Linked DNA regions of Homo sapiens: region 2 is linked to region 1. The links come from fine-mapping of genetic effects on gene expression. Tissue or cell type: thyroid. Region 1 holds a variant in brackets; the other region holds the start of a gene. All regions are shown on one strand. Distances are between the middles of the regions.

What was found. PIP is the estimated chance that this variant, and not a neighbour inherited with it, causes the effect.
Region 2: it holds the start of RAD9A, and the variant in region 1 is fine-mapped to the expression of RAD9A in thyroid (GTEx, PIP 0.94).

The regions. Positions count from the first base shown.
Region 1 is chr11:67,128,448-67,136,447 of GRCh38, reverse strand. All of the region lies in intron 2 of KDM2A (lysine demethylase 2A), which reads right to left. LOC124902695 (a long non-coding RNA gene) reads right to left here and starts at 1,837. Exons shown (of 2, transcript XR_007062740.1): 1 at 1,801-1,837. The variant T/C (reference allele first, on the strand shown) is at 4,300.
Region 2 is chr11:67,387,053-67,395,139 of GRCh38, reverse strand. RAD9A (RAD9 checkpoint clamp component A) reads right to left here and starts at 3,154. Exons shown (of 11, transcript NM_004584.3): 1 at 3,062-3,154; 2 at 2,909-2,979; 3 at 2,358-2,486; 4 at 1,530-1,644; 5 at 1,350-1,449. The coding sequence starts at 3,095. It overlaps LOC100130987 (a long non-coding RNA gene), which reads right to left. Exons shown (of 4, transcript NR_024469.1): 3 at 7,469-7,605; 4 at 3,453-3,742. RefSeq lists enhancers at 2,533-3,037, 3,072-3,987 and a silencer at 2,938-3,307.

The sequences.
Region 1 (8,000 bases):
TCTCCTGAATGAGAACAGATGACTTGGGAAACACCCTCAATTCATCAGTGAAACATTTATAAACTGTGTCCCAACAAAGTTGATGAAGAGGCAGTATAACTTAAGTATGCTCTGGAATCACCAGACTGTTTACTTTGAATCCTGGCTCTGTCCCTTAACTGGATAATCTGAGACACTTAACTGCACTTTGGATCTGTTTCCAAAACTTTAAAATGGGAGTCAAAGAATCCATTTCAAAGGGTTCTTGAGAATTAAATTAGTGAGTATATCGAAAATGCCAGTACCAAGCACACAGTACACATTCAATCAATGTGTGCTATTATCCATGAGATTGGGTTTTTATCTCCTACTTTCAAATATGCAGTGTGACTTTTCCTTTACCTTATCCCCCAAAAATGGTTTCTGGCCTGGTGAAAAAATCAGATATTAAACAAACACACTAGTAACGTTAATTATAGTTACACAAAGGCAACAAAGGTAAACACAGAATGCAATGAAAGTATATGATAGGATGAGCTATCTAGAATCTAGACTTCAGTAGTGGGTAGAAACATCAGTTCATAGTTCTACAGGGTGTGCACCATTGAATTCCAAGGGCATCTTTATTCACATAGATTAAGATATGTGAATGGCAACTTTTGGGATTACCCAACATGTAGCACTGTCCACAAGTTCTGGCAACCCCAAGAATGGTGATGATCAAAAGACTAAGATGGTGATGATCAAAAGACTAAAATGACAAAAAGACACAAGAGACAAAGAAGTACTTTGCAAACTATAAAACTACTATAAAACGATCACTACATTTATGAATATATATTATCTTGAGGTCACTCTCAGAAACGAGTCATTTACGCAGATTACTGCCTTGACAAACAAAAAAGTTGCTAACGTCTGTGATCCAGGATCTAAAGAGATGAATTAAGGCTGAGGGCCACAACCAGCTCATGAGGCAGTTTTTCAGAGTGATCATGCGGTCTTCAGCTACAGGGCAATTAAAAATATTTTAACATTTGCTCACAACAGCACCACAACTTTTATCTCATTTCCCTATCCTTCAAAGAGAGTATCAAAAGGAAATCTGTGCTGGGCGCGGTGGCTCACGCTTGTAATCCCAACACTTTTGGAGGCCGAGGCAGGTGGAACGAGGTCAAGAGATCGAGACCATCCTGACCAACATGCTGAAACTTTTTCTCTACTAAAAATACAAAATTAGCTGGGCAGGGTGGTGCATACCTGTAATCCCAGCTACTCGGGAGGCTGAGGCAGGAGAATCGCTTGAACCCAGAAGGCGGAGGTTGTGGTGAGACGAGATCGCGCCATTGCACTCCAGCCTGGGCAACAAAAGTGAAACTCCGTCTCAGGGGGAAAAAAAAAAAAGAAAATCTTATCTGCTGTAGCTTAATGACTGATGTCTAGACAGTGAATGCTTATGTTACCGAAATAAGTTGATCTTTGCGTATGTTAAAAGGAGTAAAGAAAATATGCAACTGGGTTGAGGATTGTCATGACCATGAAGTTAGTTTTGTGAAAATTCAACAACAGAAAAAGGGCTTCATGCTTACTTTTGCAAAGCATGATGTGGGAAACACAATGTGAGACTGCTTTTGAGATGTTTTGTGTTAGATTTATCTAAAATTCAAGGCCAGGTGAGGTGGCTCACACTTGTAATCCCAGCACTTTGAGAGGCTGAAGCAGGTGGATCACCTGAGGTCAGAAGTTCGAGACCAGCCTAGTCAACGTGGCGAAATCCTGTCTCCACTAAAAATATAAAAATTAGCTGGGCGTGGCGACGCATACCTGTAATCCCAGCTACTCAGGAGGCTGAGGCAGGAGAATCACTTGAACCCAAGAGGCAGAGGTTTAAGTGAGCCGAGATCGCACCACTACATTCCAGCCTCGGCAACAGATTGACTGTCTCAAAAAAAAAGTAAATAAATAAATAAAACTTTAAAAAATAAAATTATAAAATGAATAGCAGATAATCAGGACGGAAACATGCAACCTATCTACTGGGTATTTCCCTTTACATCAGGGTTTGTCAACCTTGTACTACTGACATTCTGGACCTGTTCATTCATCGTAGTTAGGGCTGTCCTGTGCACTGCAGAATGCTTTAGCAGCATCCCTAGCCTCTACTCATTAAATACCAGTAGCACTACCCCAGTCTGACCATCAGAAATGTCCACTGCTAAATGTTTCCTTGGGGGCAAAATCATCCCCAGTTGAGAATCTGCTTTAAATCTTCTAGTATCTCCAACTGTCTAAAGCCTCATCCACTCATATTCTCTCCTCAAAGTTTCAAAAAATCTTTCCCCCAGTCTTCCTGGTAATCCAAGCTAAATCCCAAAGTCTACCTTAGTATTTCATTTGTCTTTGCCTTCAAAATCCTCAGAAAGCACACTGTACAACTTCAACAAGGACAGGTCAGTTTTCTTGTTTAAAACCACAGTTGGTGCCGGGCATGGTGGCTCACGCCTCTAATCCTAGCACTTTGGGAGGCCGAGGTGGGAGGATCACGAGGTCAGGAGTTTGAGACCACTCTGACCAACATGGTGAAACCCTGTCTCTACTAAAAATACAAAAATTACCTGGGTGTGGTGGCGCAGGGCTGTAAACCCAGCTGGCTGAGGCAGGAGAATCGCTTGAACCTGGGAGGCGGAAGTTATAGTAAGCCGAGATGGCGCCACTGCACGTCAGCCTAGGAGCCAGAGACTCTGTCTCAAAAAAAAAACCACAGTTGGAAGCCGGGTGCGGTGGCTCACGCCTGTAATCCCAGCACTTTGGGAGGCCGAGGTGGGCAGATCACCTGAGGTCAGGAGTTCAAGACCAGACTGGCCAACATGGCAAAACCCCGTCTCTACTAAAAATATAAAAATTGGCCGGGCGTGGTGGTGGGAGCCTGTAATCCAAGCTACTGGAGAGGCTGAGACAGAAGAATCACCTGAACCCAGGAGGCAGAGGTTACAGTGAGCAGAGATTAGGCCACTGCACTCCAGCCTGGGCAACAGAGTGAGATTCTGTCTCAAAACAAAAAATAAAAATAGGCCAGGCACGGTGGCTCACACCTATAATCCCAGCCCTTTGGGAGGCCAAGGCGGGTGGATCACTTGAGGTCAGGAGTTTGAGACCAGCCTGACCAACATGGTAAAACACCATCTCTACAAAAAAAAACACAAAATTAGCGCAGTGTGGTGGCGCACGCCTGTAATCCCAGCTACCTGGGAGGCTGAGGCAGGAGAAGTGCTTGAACCCTGAAGGCGGAGATTGCACTGAGCCAAGATAGCACCATTACACTCCAGCCTGGCCAACAAGAGTGAAACTCCCTCTCAAAAAATAAATAAATAAATACGAATAAAAGCACAATTGGTAAGAGACTTGATACTAAAACTCAAGGCTCAACATCCCCAATTAAGTACTCTTCTCTATCATAACATGCTGCTATCCATCAGTTACAAAGTTTAGTCAGTCCTTCACTGCCAATGTGTCTTGCTTCTATCTCTTCCTTTCCATTTCTACCTATAACCCACAGCAATGGTTCTCAAACTTTTGCGTGGATCAAAATCACCTGTCTTGTTAAAACACAGATTGCTAGGCCCCAACTCCAGAGTTTCTGGTTCAGTAAGTTTGGGGTGGGGCCCAAGAATTTGCATTCTAATATGTTCCCAGACACTCAGTTAATGCTCATGCTGCTAATGAGAGACCTACACTTTGAAAACCACTGCCTTAAGAGTTCAGGGTTCCTGTCACCTCAAAAGGCAAGCTATTTGAATTTCTTTCTAGACCACCCCGACCTGAAACTGGAGACATTACTCCCAAAATGCCACTTTGGCCAAATCACTGTTATATTAAAAACAAACTGGCTGGACGCAGCGGCTCATGCCTATAATCCCAGTACTTTGGGAGGCCGAGGCAGGCGGATCATTTGAGGTCAGGAGTTCCAGACCAGCCTGGCCAATAATAGTTGAGACCCCGTCTCTACTAAAAATACAAAAAATTAGCCGGGCGTGGTGGCACGTGCCTGTAATCCCAGCTACTTGGGAGGCTGAGGCAGGAGAATCGCTTGAACCCAGGAAGCGTAGGTTACAGTGAGCCGAGATCGTGCCATTGCACTCTAGCCTGGACATCGCAGTGAGACTCCATATCCAAAAAACAAAAAAAACAAAACTTCTAATGGCTATGTCCATACTTGGCTTTCAAAGTTGTTTAAAATTTCTACCCAACGTTATCAGCAGTGCCCCTCAAAAGACACCACCTACTTCAGTCTGCTCATCTATCAGAGATCCACAGAATAGGCCT[T/C]ATAGTAGTAGTATAAAGCTTATGCTGTCTTTACCACCTGAAAGGCCACCCTCTTCCCTCCTCCTCTCTACCTACCTGAAGGAGGCCTTCACCAATGTATTTGCCAAAAACATTCGTTTGGTCACTATTTGCTGCCTTTTATCTTTAGGGTTTAACTTTTTACCAAGTACTCACAGACAGAGAAAAACCCCAAGAACCTAAAATTTAAAACAGAAAACAAGGATATGAGTGACATACATAAATAAAAGCCTTGACATACACACAAACTGCACAATACTGCCGTTTTAACAGATCAAGTGCAATAAGTTCAAAGTTCATGAAAAGAAAGAATGTGCCATCTTTGTTTGAAACATAATCAAACACTGGCTATCAAATATTTATAGCTATCTAATTCAGGATGTTAAGCAGACAGACGTTAGCAAGAAAATGTTAAAGTAGGCGGAAAGTCGTGGCTCATGCCTGTAATCTCAGCATTCTGGGAGGCCAAGGCAAGTGGATCACCCGAGGTCAGGAGTTCCAGACCAGCCTGGCCAATATGGTAAAACCCCATCTCTACTAAAAATACAAAAATTAGCCAGGCGTGGTGGCACACGCCTGTAATCCCAGCTACTAAGGAGGCTGAGGCAGGAGAATTGCCTGAACCTGGGAGGCAGAGGTTTCAGTGAGCCAATATCGCACCACTACACTCCAACCTGGGCGACAAGAGCGAAATTCCATCTCAAAAAAAAAAAAAAAAGAAAAGAAAACACTAAAGTAGCCTCAAAAGAGAGAAAGTACTCAGCCTACACACCGTGGAGTAAGAGTGTTATTATTATTATTTTTTTGAGACGGAGTTTCGCTCTTGTCACCCAGGCTGGAGTGCGACGGTGAGATCTCAGCTCACAGCAACCTCCACCTCCCAGGTTCAGGCGATTCTCCCACCTCAGCCTCCCGAGTAGCTGGGACTACAGGCGTGCACCACCATGCCCAGCTAATTTTGTATTTTTAGTAGAGATGGGGTTTCGTCATGTTGGCCAGGCTGGTCTTGAACTCCTGACCTCAGGCAATCTGCCCGCCTCGGCCTTGCAAAGTAGTTGGGATTACAGGCGTGAGCCACTGCACCCGGCCTGTTTTCTGTATAAAGTACACAAGAGACGTTGGATGGTATGAGAGAAGAAACCTGGGAGTTTGGAGTCAGGGTACCTGAGTTCAAGGTCTGGTTTCACCTCTTACCGACTCTGTGATCTTGGGCAAGTCATGGCCCCTCCCTGGGCCTCTCTCTCCATAATTAAAAAAAAAAAAAAAATCAAGGTTTAAAACGATACCATCTACCTTCCAGGGTTGTTTTGAGAATTAAATAAGGTAATATATATGAAAGAACCTAGCCTACTATCTGGCATATAATAAATGTTTACTGAATTTTAACCCTTTTTGATGTGAAAGTGCAATGCAAAAATAAAGTATTATTCCAAAAGTGAGATAAACAGAGAAAATTAATGAAACCTAATTAAGAGTGTCCGTTACCCCCCCAAAATAGAAAGATACAAAGAATGTATGTCTATCTACATGATATACATAATGTATCAATTCCTTGACTTAATAACCAAAACCAAGACCCGAGAATAACACAAACATCATCACTTGCAACTTCACAGCTTTAAGGCTGTCTAAAGGTCAGCAAAACCTAGGCACAGTTTAGGACAGGATTAGAACAGGAGAGCTTAAGGCCGGGCATGGTGGCTCACGCCTGTAATCCCAACACTTTGGGAGGCCGAAGTGGGCGGATCACTGGAGGTGAGGAGTTTGAGACCAGCCTGACCAACATGGTGAAACCCTGTCTCTACTAAAACAATATAAAAATTAGCCAGGTGGTAAAGAGCAGTCAGGTGCACCTGTGAGGAAGTCAGGTGCCGTGACTCAGACTCGAGTAAACACGAAGTATGAGTTCAACCCAGAAAACTGCTCTCTCTTGGGTTTTGCAAACTTGTCAGAAATAAATCACTAACTTTAGAAAGCTTTGGTGCAAGAAAAAAAAAAAAATTAGCCAGGTGGGGTGGCGGACGCCTGTAATCCCAGCTACTAGGGAGGCTGAGGCTGAAGAATCACTTGAACCCGGGAGGCGGAGGTTGCAGTGAGCAGAGATCGCACCATTGCACTCCAGCCTGAGTGACCACAGTGAAACTGTCTCACAAAAGAAAAAAAAAAAAAGAATAGGAGAGCTTAAAATTCAGACTAAACTTTAATTTTTTTAATTTTTTTTTTTGAGACAGAGTCTCTGTCGCCCAGGCTGGAGTGCAGTGGCACGATCTCGGCGTACAGCAACCTCTGCCTCCCGAGTTGAAGCGATTCTCCTGTCTCAGCCTCCTGGGTAGCTGGGATTACAGGCATGTGCCACTATGCCCGGCTATTTTTCTTTTTCTTTTTTTTTTTTTTTTTGAGATGGAGTCTCGCTCTGTCACCCAGACTGGAGTGCAGTGGCGTGATCTGGGCTCACTGCAAGCTCCGCCTCCCGGGTTCACACCATTCTCCTGCCTCAGCCTCCTAAGTAGCTGGGACTACAGGCGCCCACCATCACGCCCGGCTAATTTTTTGTATTTTTAGTAGAGACGGGGTTTCACCGTGTTAGCCAGGATGGTCTCGATCTCCTGACCTTGTGATCCGCCCGCCTCGGCCTTCCAAAGTGCTGGGATTACAGGTGTGAGCCACCGCGCCCGGCCTATGCCCGGCTAATTTTTGTATTTTTAGTAGAGACGGGGTTTCACCATGTTGGTCAGGCTGGTCTTCAACTCCTGACGTCAAGCATTCCACTGGCCTTGGTCTCCCAAAGTGCTGGGATTACAGGCCTAAGTCACTGTACCTAGACAGACTAAACTTTTAAAATCAACTAGACACTTTATTATTTGTTCTAAATGGTCCAAATACCAAACATCATCAATGTGGTAGTCTGACATGTGTGCTACACATACGTTTTTATTTGTTATAGTTTAGGTCTCTGTTTCTTATCTACACTGCAAGACCCAATATCCAGATATCCTCCTCATCCCTACCTGCCAAAGTGTCCTCCATTCTAATTTATTCATTTTTTTAGAGACAGGGTCTTGCTCTGTAGCCCAAGCTGGAGTGCACTGGCACAGTCATAGCTCATCACAGCCTTAAGCCCCTGGGCTCAAATGATACTTCTGCCTCAACCTCCTGGGTAGCTGGGACCACAGGTGAGAGCCACTGCATCCAGACCCTCCTCCACTCTAGTGGCTTAATCCTAGCATTCAAGAAAATTGGTAGCAAAGAAGAGCATATATCCAGGCTTTCAACAATATCAACAAATACTTATTCAGCACTTGCTATGTGTTAGGCCCTATTTGAAGCATCTAGCACACAGCATAAACAAAAACAAAGCCCCAACTCTCAAGAAGCTTATACTCTAGTGGAAAGCTATACACAAAGTACAGTAGTGATTAATGCTCAGCAAAATAAAACAACAGAAAATAATAGGGCTTAAATTTAATCCTCATTCTAGGGGCCCAAAATATAGCTTACTGTGGAAGACTGATGTATAAGAATAAAAAATTAGTTGTCATTATCTGCATTTTTGAATCACCCAAAAATGGTCAAGTTTTTCCTACATTATTAGGAGGGAGGCCGCAACAATGAGACCAGTGCACTCTCTACCAACACAGACTAAAGACTAAATCTCATAAAATAATTAGAAATAAACTAATTCA
Region 2 (8,087 bases), 260 kb before region 1:
GGTGAAACCTCGTCTCTACTAAACATATATAAATTAGCCGGGCGTGGTGGTGCATGCCTGTAATCCCAGCTACTCGGGAGGCTGAGGCAGGAGAATCGCTTGAACCCGGGAGGCAGAGATTGCAGTGAGCCAAGATTGCACCACTGCACTCCAGCCTGGGTGACAGAGCGAGACTCTATCTCAAAACAAAACGAGAGAAACAATTGCTCATTTTTAAAAAAAGAGACTGAGTGTGGTGGCTGACGCCTGTAATCCCAGTACTTTGGGAGGCTGAGACGGGCAGATCACCTGAGGTCGGGAGTTCAAGACCAGCCTGACCAACATGGAGAAACCCTGTCTCTACTAAAAATACAAAAAATTAGCCGGGCATGGTGGCGCATGCCTGTAATCCCAGCTACTCGGGAGGCTGAGGCAGGAGAATCACTTTTATCGGGAGGCGGAGGTTGTGGTGAGCCGAGATCGTGCCATTGCCTGGGCAACAAGAGCGAAACTCTGTCTCAAAAAAAAAAAAAAAAGACACCACCCTAAATGCAGACCAAGGAATTGGCCCCCGTCTCTCACTACCCAAAAGAGCTCTGAGCAGTGCTGGCTCAAAAGAACCTGGGGAAACAGATGTCAGGACCCAAAGGGATCTTCAGTCACCCTGAGAAATGAGCAGGACCTTGGGCCACTTGAATGCAAGCAGTGACCAGCATGGAGCAGGGGGAGAGCCCACTCCTCTCTGAGCTGGTCCTCGCCAGGGACGTTTGCTTCAACTGGAGTCCCCATTTCCCTGGCCCCAGACAGCCCCCAGTGCTCGGACTGCCCAGAACAGCTCCACCCCATAGCTGATTATTCAGCCTCCCTCCAGCCTCCTGCCCTGGCCTTGGGGACTCCTCGATCCTGGGCAGTCAGGAAAAGAGGCTGCCGTTGAATGGGGAACACCTCTGGAAGGATGCCCAGGCCGGAGAAGGGGTCTGAGCCTCTGAGCCACAGGTTATGGGCAGACCTTCAAGGTTACTCAAGCCAGACAAGAGATTTGGTGGCAGGCCAGAAATGTGCTCCCTAGAGGAGGAGTTGGAATGGGTTTGAGCAGCCAGAAAGTCAAGTCAGACCTTTGGGATGGAGAATGCAGGCTCCTAACAGTAAGGAGAATGGAGCAAGGAGGCGCCTGCCCCTCCTCCATGCCACCGTCTGCCTTTAAAGAGCCAGGTAAGGACCTGAGCACATAGCGGGCCATGGGATGTCTTTGAGGTTCACAGAAACTCTGTAGGGAAAATGAAAGAGGTACCTTCTAAAATCAACCCCTTGGGGCCCCAAAGAAGGAAGAGAGAGACCCGGGGCTGAGCTGAGGGCAGGGGTGTGCTCACCGTGCTGGGGCGCGGAGCATGTGGGGGCACGAGGCTGGGTCGAAGACGGCCTGCAGGGACTCACAGTCCTGGAAGGACAGGTTGTGAGTCTTCCGCACCCCTGGATGGGCGATAGGGTCTCAGTGGGCCTCGCCGACCTCCCTGCTGAGGCACCCCTTGGCTGGCCGGCTGCCCACTCACCGAACTTGCAATGCAGCTGGACCACCAGGCGGCTGCTCCGGCCATTCAGGGAGATGCAGCATTTTTCCACCGTCTTCTCCAGCATCGCCAGTGAGCGGAAGACAGACAGGAAAGACTGCATGGGATAAGACACCTCAGCCTAGCATCACATCTCTGCAACAAGCTCTCCTGTCCCATGCAGGCCCACACCCATCATGGGCCCAGCATGTAACTCTGGGAAAAGGGCTCCCACGTCACCTCGGGCACTGGCATCCTTCTAGGCCTCATTCATGCTCTTCCTTATGCTTGGAATGCCTTGAAAGACCTGCTTACCTTTTTTTTTTTTTTTTTTGAGATGGAGTCTCGCTCTGTCACCCAGGCTGGAGTGCAGTGGTGCGATCTCAGCTCACTGCAACCTCCACCTCCCGGATTCAAGCAATTCTCCTGCCTCAGCCTCCCGAGTAGCTGGGATTACAGGCGCGTGCCACCACGCCCAGCTAATTTTTGTATTTTTAGTAGAGACGGGGTTTCGCCATGTTGGCCAGGCTGGTCTCGAACTCCTGACCTCGTGATCCGCCTGCCTCGGCCTCCCAAAGTGCTGGGATTACAGGCGTGAGCCACCGCGCCCGGCCAAAAGACGTGCTTACCTTTCTTGACGAACTTGAGCGTCACCACCCTCTCAGGTCCCCGCTGTGATGCTTTTACCATGGCCCTCCCTGTGTTTTGCATGGATTGGGCTTGCACGTGTCTCTCTCCCCACTTAGCATCTACTGAGTACCCCAGGGCAGAGGCACAGCTGGTGGAGATTCCTGGGGTGGAGTAGTGCCACTGCTGAGGGAAGGGCCTCACCTTCATCAGGATCTTACAGCGCAGCAGGTCCTGACCAGGGGTGGCTGCCTGGTATTGCTGGAAGAAGAGCGGGGCAAAGAGAAAGCAGGCATAGGCAGAGCGGGAGGAGTTCACCGTCCGGAGGGAGAGCTGGGCCACGAAGAGCAGGGAGAGGGACGTGGTCAGGGGGCAGCCACAGACCCAGCCCTCTGGCTGCTTCTGCTCACACACTTGCCCTATCGTCCTCCCGCTCCGCCACCACCTGCTGAAAAACCCTCCTTTCCCCATGGAAGCCTTCAGAGTCGGCCCCGGCGCTGCTGCCGCAGAGGAGGGGTCGCACACCCAGGCCTTCCCCGAGTTTCTCTAAGTGCACGTCACCCCCTGGGAGCTCGCAGGACAGCTTTCCTCAATTCACACACCGGCCTGGGAAGATGACAGCCGCCAGACTAAGAAACTGAAACTTTGCCGACAAATCTGCCAGCGGTCATCCCGCCTAGTGGGGGCGAGACTCTAGTCCGGGTTACCCGCTCCCGGCTGGAGTCCCACCCGCCCCCCACACCCTAGCCCCTCACCCCGTCCTCCAAGGGTTCCAGGTAGAGCTCGTCCCCGATGCGGGACAGGGAGTGGACGGCCTTGCCGAGCACTGCGGGGAGAAGAGCGGAAGGGGGTTAGGCTGGCGGCTCCGCGGCTGCTGCACCGCCGCTGCCAGGCCGACCTGCACTCACCCTTCACGTTGCCGCCCGTGACCAGGCACTTCATGCTGCCCCAGCGCTCCGCCAGCGGCCAACACTGCCCAGCTCTCCGCGACCTCCGGGTCCGGGGTCCCTTCCCGCGCACCGCCCCTGCCGGCCCCGCCCCCGCCTCCCCATTGGTCCACGTGCAGGCGCCTCCGTCACGTGAGAAAAACGCTCACAGGCTCTGCCGTCACGTGACGGCGCACGTTGTCCGGGGTGTCACGTGACCGGGGAGGCCCGCGGCGCCCGCCAGCCAGCTGCTCCTGGCTCCCCCGGCACGCCTCGGCCTTCCGTGCCCCTGGAGATCGGGGCGTTCCGCGGGCCGCGCACCGGATTGCGAAGGTCAGAGAGGACGCAGCTGTGGGGCGCGAGGTCCCTGTGCAGTGGACCGAGTGCTGGACTCGGAGTCGGAGTGTGGGGGCGAGCTCTCTGGGGTCACCCACTTAGTAGAGTTCCCGGGCGTCTGCCGGGGGATACAGGGTGCAAGCAAGACCATCGCACCCACTCTGGGCCTGAGACTCGGACTCCAGCAGCAATCCCCAACTCTAGAAAGAAGTCAAAGCAGCTTGCTTGCAGCAGCCGGGAGTGGGAGGTGGCTGCTCCTTCCGGCTTCGAGGATCCTTTAAGGAAAAACGGCAGTTTCTCCAGGCAGAAAGGGGTAGAACGGTGCCCCTGGCAGAGGGAAGAACAAGAGTAAATGCTCAGCGGTGTGGGCTCCGCCCCCTGGAGAGGGGAGTAGGTCTGTGAGTCTCAGAGAGGCGTAGGGGCCGCCAGATGATGAGGGGCACCGCTGGGACGCTCTGGAAACGTTTTACGAGGGTAGATCGTGGTTATGTGCCTTTTTTTGTTTGTTTGTTTTTTGAGACATATTCTTGCTCTGTCACCCAGGCTGGAGTGCAGTGGCGCGAACACGGCTCACTGCCGCCTGGAACTCCTGGGCTCAAGGGATCCTCCCATCTCAGTCTCCTGAGTATCTGGGACCACAGGCACACCCACCACGCCCGGCCCTTTTTTTTTTTTTTTTTTTTTGGGTAGAGACGGAGTCTTGCCATGTTGCCCAGGCCGGTCTCAACTGTGGGGTTCAAGCTGTCTTTCCGCCTTGGCCTCTCAAAGTGGAGTGAGCTACTGCACCGGCCTGTTTTTTGTTTTTTGTGTGTGTGTGTGGGGTTTTTTTGTTTGTTTGTTTTGAGATAGAGCCTCGCTCTGTCGCCCAGGCTGGAGTACAGTGGCACGATCACGCCTCCCAGGTTCAAGCGATTCTCCTGCTTCAGCCTCCCAAGTAGCTGGGATTACAGGCGCCTGCCACAACGCCTGGCTAATTTTTGTACTTTTAGTAGAGACGGGTTTCACCATGTTGGCCAGGCTGGTCTCGAACTCCTGACCTCAAGTGATCCGCCCGCCTCGGTCTCCCAAAGTGCTGGGATTACAGGCATGGGCCACCGCGCCCAGCCCCGGGTCTGTATTTTTAAAAGACCCCAGACTGGCCGGGTACGGTGGCTTACGCCTGTAATCCTACCACTTTGGGAGGCCGAGGCGGGCGGATCACGAGGTCAAGAGATCCAGACCATTCTGGCCAACATGGTGAAACCCCGTCTCTACTAAAAGTACAAAAAGTAGCCGGGCATGTTGTCACGCGCCTGTAGTCCCAGCTACTCTGGAGGCTGAGGCAGGAGAATTGCTTGAACCCGGAGGCGGAGGTTGCAGTGAGCCGAGATCGCGCCACTGCACTCTAGCCTGGCAACAGAGTGAGACTCCATCTCAAAAAAAAAAACCAGACTGTGTGCCAGGTGGGGATGCATCAGCTGGAAGGTATTCCCCTTCCCCTGGGCTTCCGGGTCCACGTGTGTAAAATGTAAGGGAGTCCTGGAGAAACTCACTGACCCCTACTCTCCCCACAGTACCAAGGCTCTGGTAGTTCTTGGAAGGGCCCAGGGCATCCCTGTATTCCTGCAGGGCCTGCCCGTGCCTTGCCCCTCAGGTCCTGTGGTAGTGCAGAAGATATATTTATCTCTGCCACCCTTGCTCTCCAGACCCACTTTCAAATGAGTTGAATTGATACATAATAATTGTACACATTTGGATACATGCATACACTTTGTTTCTCCCTCTCCTTCCCTTCTGCTCCCCTCGTCACCAGCCCTTGCCCCTTCCGTGGAGCCTTGGGGGAGGAGGTTACTCTTCCCTTCCCCTTCCCGGGGGATCCATGGAAATAGTGCCCCTGTCCCTGGGCATCCGGCTCAGTATGCTGGAGTCATCCTTGACCTCATGCTCGCCCTCACCCCTACACAGTCTTTCAGTTAAGTCCTGACCACTCTGCTTCCCAAACAGGTGGCAACTTAACAGGTGGCAACTTTGCCCTCCTCTTCCATCTCCAAGGCCTAGGCCACCATCCTCTCACCTGGATGACTGTAACAGCTCTCAGTGGTCTCCTGCCTCCACCCTGCCCCCTCCAGGCCACTCTCCATACAGCAGCAAAGTGACCCTCCTAAAATGTCCATTGTGTCATGCCTCTCCCGTGTTTGCACACTCCAGTGGTTGCCATAAAATCCAAACTCTGCCCTGAACCTGCAGGAGCCGCCGCCACCCATTTCTCCACCTGTGGCCTCCCCTTGATCACCTGCACAGCCATGCCAACCCTGTGGGCTCCCTGAACCCTCCACTTCCTTTTCCACCTGGGGATTTTAGCACATCCTTAGCTGTCCCCACCACTTGGCATCGTCTTACCCCTTCTAACGTGGCGGTGCTTCTCTTCCTCCAGGCTCAGTGCCGTCTTTTCTGCCCCCACCAGCATCCCATTACACTCTAGCTAGACCCTGTTTTAGCCACAGCACTTATCACGTTATTTCATGCGTGTGTTTGCCTGTTTAACATCTGTCTTCCTCACTAGTGTGTCTGCCTCACAAGGGCAGGAACCATGTCTGGTTTTTGGTTTTTTGTTTTTTCTGAAGACAGAGTCTTGCTCTGTCGCCCAGGCTGGAGGGCAGTGGCGCGATCTCGGCTCACTGTAACCTCCGCCTCTGGGGTTCAAGCAATTCTTGTGCCTCAGCCTCCCAAGTACCTGGGAATACAGGTGTGTGCCACCACGCCCGGCTAATTCTTGTATTTTTATTAGAGATGGGGTTTTGCCATGTTGGCCAGGCTGGTCTCAAACTCCTGACCTCAACTGATCTGCCCGTCTCAGCCTTCCAAAGTGCTGGGATTACAGGCGTGAGCCACTGCACCCGGCCTTGGCTTTGTTTTGTTTGTTCTGTTTTGTTTTGTTTGTTAAGATGGGTTCTTGCTTTGTCACCCAGGCTGGAGTGTAGTGGCACGATCATAGATCACTGCAGCCTCAACTTCCCAGGCTCAAGCGATCCTTCCACCTCAACCTCCCGAGTAACTAGGGCTACTGGCGCATGCCACTACAGCCAGCTAATTTTTTAAATGTTTGTTAGAGACAAGGTCTCCTTCTGTTGCCCAGGCTGGAGTTGAACTCCTGGGCTCAGGCGATCCTCCTGCCTTAGCCTCCCAAAGTGCTAGGATTACAGGCGTGAGCCACCACACCCAGCATCCATGTCTGTTTTGTTTGTTGCTGTATGTACCTCACACAGGGTCTGGCACTCAGTAAATAATGAATAAATAGGTGTTACATTTAAAAATGTGTAAACCAGCCGGGCGCGGCGGCTCATGCTTAATCCCAGCACTGTGGGAGACCAAGGCTGGTGGATCACTTGAGCCCAGGAGGTGGAGATTGCAGTGAGCTGAGATAGCGCCACTGCACTGCAGCCTGGGTAAGAGAGCCAGACCCTTTCTCAAAAAAAAAAAAAAAAAAAAAAAGTAGGCCGAGCGCTATGGCTCACGCCTGTAATCCCAGCACTTTGGGAGGCCGGGGCAAGTGGATCACCTGAGGCCAGGAGTTTAAGACCAGCCTGGCCGACATGGTGAAACCCCATCTCTACTAATAATACAAAAATTAGCCAGGCATGGTGGCACGTGCCTGTAATCCCAGCTACTCAGGAGGCTGAGGCAGGAGAATCGCTAGAACCTGGGAGGTGGAGGTTGCAGTGAGCCAAGATCGCGCCACTGCACTCCAGCCTGGGCAACAGAGTGAGATTCTGTCTCAAAAAATGAATGAATGAATAAATATCTGTAAACCATTCCTGTTGACAAAGGGCATGGAAAAATAAGCAAACAAACAAATAAATAAATCAGCGTGAGCCAAATGCAGCTGAGATGTCTCTAAGTCACTCTTAGCACAGTGCTGAGAGAAACATCCAACTTCCAGCCCTCCACCCACAGTCCCATCTGTCCCTGCTTGACAGTTGTCCCCATGCTCTCAGCCTCATCCTGCGCTCTGGACCCCTCCCCCACCACGTGTAAACCAGGACAGCCTTCCCACCTCTGCCTCATACTCATTACCTGAGCAGCCGCCTGGAATAAGGGTAGATGCCGAAGCTCCGTGAAGGCAAGGGAGGTGGAGGCTGTGAATCTTCACACAGTCCTGTTTCTGCCCCTGACACCTAATGGGGTTATGGGGTTCTATGACCTTGAGGACCCTAGGCAGAAGAGAAGGGACACATAAGCTTTTTTTCATATGTTTCATATCTGTCTTCTCCACTAGTGTGTCTACCTCACAAGGCCAGGAACCATGTCTGCCTTTTATATCAGCCAGGGGCAGGTGTGAGCCACTGCCCCCAGCTGACATACACTCTTTCGACTCGTATTGAGTAGTTTTCAGTCACCCTCCCACCCCCTTGCCAAAAGTCAGAACTCGTTGGAACTTTCTGAAGGGCTTAGAACAGCAAGAAGCCTAGAGCGGGAAGTCGGGAGCTGTGGTAGGATACGTCCCTGCCCCCGTGTGATTTGTGCAAATCCCTCCCTGTCTCGGCTGCTTCCTCATCTGTATGATGTGATGGTGGGGGCTGGGGAGAGTAGGAGGTACTCACTGAGGTCCCTTCCAACCTTGACATGCTGTGATCCTGAAGGGGCCCCGAGGCTCCCCTATGCCCCTCATCCACCCCAGCTTGGGGGAGAAGCT